2 separate regions of the Homo sapiens genome follow, and region 2 is linked to region 1. Evidence: fine-mapped expression QTL. Tissue or cell type: lung. Region 1 holds a variant in brackets; the other region holds the start of a gene. All regions are shown on one strand. Distances are from middle to middle.

Evidence for each region. PIP is the estimated chance that this variant, and not a neighbour inherited with it, causes the effect.
Region 2: it holds the start of CD164L2, and the variant in region 1 is fine-mapped to the expression of CD164L2 in lung (GTEx, PIP above 0.99).

What each region holds. Positions count from the first base shown.
Region 1 is chr1:27,050,106-27,052,783 of GRCh38, forward strand. The region is part of intron 5 of LOC101928391 (a long non-coding RNA gene); the gene reads left to right. Among named protein-coding and RNA genes, the nearest start is that of TENT5B, 39 kb to the left of the region's middle. RefSeq lists enhancers at 1-348, 349-1,164. The variant G/A (reference allele first, on the strand shown) is at 1,444.
Region 2 is chr1:27,381,702-27,384,379 of GRCh38, forward strand. CD164L2 (CD164 molecule like 2) reads right to left here and starts at 1,632. Exons shown (of 6, transcript NM_001330448.1): 1 at 1,451-1,632; 2 at 799-966; 3 at 627-698; 4 at 79-123. The coding sequence starts at 1,538.

The sequences.
Region 1 (2,678 bases):
CAGAGGAACTGTGGATTTAATTTGGCTGTTATGCTGATGAAGCAGGGTGCACCTGAGAGGGCCAGGAATGTTAGCAGCCGTGTCCTATGGCGTGGGCTCCCTCCCTCCGTTTCCAAAGGGGCAGATACAGGAGAAGGTGGAGGGCTCTGCACAGCTGCCTTTGGTGCCTGAAGTCCCACTGAGGCAAATCTGGGCCACACAGCCTCACTCCATTACCGCCTTTATGAGTGATTTCTGGAGATATTCCAAGCCCAGCACATTCTTATCCTCAGGTATTTTAGAGATCTATTCGTAGGGCACAAATCATCCCCAAACTTAGCAGCTTAAAACAATATACATTTGGCCAGGCATGATGGCTCACGCCTGTAATCCCACCACTTTGGGAGGCCAAGGCGGGCGGATCACCTGAGGTCAGGAGTTTGAGATCAGCCTGACCAACATGGAGAAACCCCATCTCTACTAAAAATACAAAAAATTAGCCGGGTGTGGTGGTGCATGCCTGTAATTCCAGCTATTCGGGAGGGTGAGGCAGGAGAATCATTTGAACCTGGGAGGCAGAGGTTGCAGTGAGCCGAGATTGTGCCCCTGCACGCCAGCCTGGGCAACAAGAGTGAAACTCCGTCTCAACAACAACAACAACAACAACAACAACAACAACAAAAACCCCAAAACCAATATACATTTGTATACATTTATCCTCTCACTGAGCTTCTGAGGGTCAGGAATCCAGGAGCAGCTTAGCTGGGTGGCCCTGATTCAGGGTCTCTCTTAAAGTTGTGGTCAAGATGTCAGCTGGGACTGGGCGTGGTGGCTCACGCCTGTAATCCCAGCACTTTGGGAGGCCAAGGCGGGCAGATCATATGAGGTCAGGAGTTTGAGACCAGCCTGGACAACATGGTGAAACACCTTCTCAACTAAAAATACAAAAATTAGCCAGGCATGGTGGCACGCACCTGTAATTCCAGCTACTCAGGAGGCTGAGGCAGGAGAATTATTTGAACCCAGGAGGCAGAGGTTGCAGTGAGCCAAGATCGCGCCATTACACTCCAGCCTGGGTGACAGCAAGAGTCCATCTCAAAAAAAAAAAAAGATGTCAGCTGGGATGACCGACTCCTGAAGGCCTGACTGGGGCTGGAGGATCTGCTCCCAAGGCAGCTCACATAGTTGGCAAGTTGGTGCTGATTGATGACAGGCGGCCTTGGTTCCTCACGCATGGGCTTCTCCACAGGGCTGCTTGTACATCCTCACAACATGGTGGCTGCCCTCCCCAAGAGGAAGCGTTCCAACATGGCAGGGTTGAAGCCACCAATCTCTTTTATGGCCTAGCCTTGAAAATCACACGCTATCACTCCTGCTGTACTCCCTTGGTCACCCAGGCCAACCCTATTTAATGTGAGAGAAGACCACACAAGGTTGTAACTAGCAGGAGGTAGGGGTTGCTGG[G/A]GCCATCTTGGAGGCTGGCTACCTCACCAGCCTTTGGGTTAATCTTCAGGTAAATCTTCAAACTTTATACTCAGTGGTTCCCATGCCTCCGAGAACTACCTAAGAGAACCCATTTATGCCTGAGGTTGCAATTTTTTGAATTTTTGCAATGAGACCTTGGCGGTGCCCTTGAGCAGTAGGATATAAATAACTCCCACATGCTTAGTGTTCCAATAATGGAACACTAGGCATAAATGGGTTTAAGCATCTTCTATCCATGAGGGGCTCTGTGTTTGAAGAAGGATGAGGAAGATGCCCCGTGCAGGCCCCACCAACTTCCCAGTGGCTCACTTCCTGCTTTGCCCCTCACTCACTGGCACTTTCTGTGTTTCAGCAGCCTGTTCTGGCCATAGCAAAAAGGGGTCCTCCAGCGACTGCCACAGCTGTTCCAACAACAGCCTCAGCCTTTGGCATTTCATGGTTTCCTCAGGAAACTGACTAGATGAGCCCATTTCTTAGGGACAGCCCAGTTTAAGACCACAGGGACAACCTTGAACCCACTAACTCTATCCTCATCTCACTCTACCAGCCAGCTACAGTGAAGGTTCTTTTGGAGGCCAGTGACAGAAGCCAACTCAGCCAAAAGTGGAATCCAAGGCCGGGCGCGGTGGCTCACGCCTGTAATCCTAGCACTTTGGGAGGCCGAGGTGGGCGTATTACCTGAGCTCAAGAGTTCAAGGCCAGCCTGAGCAACACGGCGAAAACCCGTCTCTACTAAAATACAAAAAATTAGCCGGGCGTGGCGGCATGCGCCTGTAGTCCCAGCTGCCTCGCCTGTAGTCCCAGCTACTTGGGAGGCTGAGGCAGAAGTGCTTGAACCCGGGAGGCGGAGCTTGCAGTGAGCCAACATTGCGCTACTGCTCTCCAGCCTGGGCGACAGAGCGAGACTCCACCTCCAAAAAAAAAAAAAGTGGAATCCAGTGGGAGGGTGCCAGAGTGCGTCACAGTACAAAGGGAAATTGAAGAGCCAAGGCCCAGGAAGGGCAGGGACCAGGGCAGTCCTGTGGATGCTAACAGCGGGGGTTCATGGGCTCTCACTGTGGAGCACAGCTAGACTTGGTACCAGAGACTTGTCTCTGCTCCAATTTCCTGGCAGACAGAATCTAATTGGCTCAGCCGTGTCAGGTGCCCATCCCTGGTCCAATCAGCAATGGCGGGGTAGGGGTGGACTCCCAGCCATGATGGCGTAGGGGTGG
Region 2 (2,678 bases), 330 kb after region 1:
ATGTCAGTGCCTGAGCCCAGAGCTGTCTTCCCCTGCACCTCTGCTCCTCCCACTGCCCCGTCTCCAGGGAGTACTCACCTGTTGTGACTGTCTTCGGTTCATAGGTGGGGTGGTGGTGAGCAGCTGAGGAGACAGGTGATCCATAGCAAAGCAGCCTTCCCACCCCCTGACTCCCATCAAGACCCCAGCCCCCACTCACCGCTAAACTTCCGATTCAGATGCAGCCCTGTCCCTACTCTAGACATCCAACATACTTGCAAGCCCCACACAGTTCCCTCCACCAGATGTGCTCTCTCTCCATCTCTACCTTCCAGGCTCATTACTGATGCCACCTCCTCCAGGAAGCACTCCCTCTCATTCCCTCTGAACTTCCAAAGTCCTTGCTATGCCTTAAACTAGAAGAAGAGCTAACACTCCCATCCCCTCCACACACCTGTACTAATTTTCAGATGAGGAAATAGGCAGAGAGAGGAGGGGACTTCTCAGTGAGCTAAAGGCAGAACTGATACCGGGCCCAGGTATGGGTGAGCAAAATCCACCGCCTGAGAGAGGCTGTTTCCTCCTGGGGGGCAGGCTATGGCTGGGGAGACCCATGCAACTTGGCTTAGGTGCAAGAACCCCCTTACCTGGACATGCCTCTGAGCGGTTGTAGATGGAGCAACCTTCCTTGACCACCTCAGATTGGGCCACACAGTGTCCTGGTGAGAGAAGGTGCAGGGGGGAGGTTTGGGGAGAGGGGCCAGGGCCTTGGGGTTCAGAGCTGGGGGCACTCAATCTGGGGAGGGCTCAGCTCCATACCTGGCTCCTCTGGCCGGCACTGCTCCCACACGCAGCTGGAGAGATTGCGCGCTCCGTCTCCCTCCACGCAGTGCTCACAGACCTCCAGCTGTTTGCAGGCCCCTTGGACCGCCGGCCAGATATTCAGGCGGATCAGGGCTCCCCTCCCAAAGCCTCGAGCTCCTTTACCTGGTAGTGCGGTGGAGTGGGAAGGGAGAATTCCTCGAAGCCAAGCTGTGGCACCCGCCCACCCTCCCACCCAACACTCCGGTGGCCCTCGCCCCTCTGCACACATCTGGGCTCTCACACTCACCCCTGGATCCCCAAGCCCCAGCGCACACCTGGAGCTTCCACAGCAGAGGTCTACACACACCTAGAGCCTCCCCACATTCACCCAGAGCCCCTCCCTTTGCATACACCCGGGGTTCCCAGATTCAGTTGGAGCCACCTCCCCCAGACCACCTGAAGCTCCCTAGGCCCCCACACCTGGGGCCTATATTTACACACAGGGCTCCACACAGAGCTGGAGCCCCCTCTCCCACCCCTGGAGGCCTGCACTTGGCCGGAAAGCCCCCTCCCCTCAAGCCCAGGCTGCTCCTGGGGAGACGGCTGGCTGAGGTGCAAGCTCCATCCGTCCCCGTCGAGCCCCTAGCCAGACCCTGCCGCGAGTTACCAGCCACAGCCAGCTGGGCACATAGGAGGAGGCAGCAACAGCCGCCACAGAGCGCAGTCCGCAAGGCGCGGGGTCCCGGAGCCTCCATGGGCTCGCGGGGTGGGGGTGGCCGGGGGCGGTGGCCGGGATCGGTGGACAGCTGCCGGGCGCGTCCCTCCCAGACTGGGCTCGGCTGAGCGTGTGCGGAGCGAGACCTGGGCAACCGGGGCGTGGCCAGGTGGGGGCGTGGCCAGTGGGAGCGGCAGGTGGGGCGGGGCTCGTCGGTCGGGGCGGAGCCAGGTGAAGGCGGGGCCAGTTAGGGGCGTGGCTAGTGTGCGCGGCCAGGTGAGTTCGGGGGTCTGGGGCGGGGCTTGGACTAAAGCAGGTGGGGTCCAGGACTGGTGGCTGGCGTGGTTACTATGTGCCTCCAAGGGCAGCTTCTTGAAAATTCTGGAAAGTACCGACTGCTTTGATCCTTACTTCACAGGTGAGGAAACTGAGGCTCAGACAAGATGAGTGACTCGTTCGAGGTCACGGAGAGAGGCAGTGGCAAAAATCTGGATTCGAGACGAGGTCACTTCCCTGCCTTCAGGGCTCGGTGCAGGCCCCGCTTTGTACACCCTCCACCCAGGCCCCATGACCGCTGGGCCGGGCCCTAGCTGGCCCCTGCCCTCTGGCTGCCCAAGCTTAGCTTCGGTGCTCCCTCTCCATTCACTGCACCCCTCCACCCGCCTCCCTTCTGCCCCTCATCCGCTGTGTCTGCCTCTGGCCTACCACACCCTCTGGCCAGGTCAGGGGTGACGCCATTACTAGGCCAACTGGGCCTCTCCGCAGCCTTCCCCACGGCTACCACTCCTGCCCTGGCACCAGCCTCTTTTGGTTCTCCTCAGGCTCCTTAGGGGGCACTTCCTCTCCTTCCTCTTCCTCCTCCCCTCCTCTCCCCTCCTTCCCCCATCTGCTTCTCCTAACCCTCTCTTAATCGATGGTGGCCCAGGTTAGTCCCAAGCCCTGTTCCACACTCTCCTGGGGTCATCCTGGACATTCCACTGCCATCAGTCCCCACTTGAAACCCAACAGCTGAGGCAGGAGGATTGCTTGAGCCCAGGGATTTGAGGCTGTAGTGAGCTGTGATCATGGCATTGCACTCCAGCCTGCGCAACAGAGTGAAACCCTGTTTTAAATGAATGAATGAATGAATGCCAACAGGTCACGTATCCCAATAAATATATACACCCACTATGCACCCATT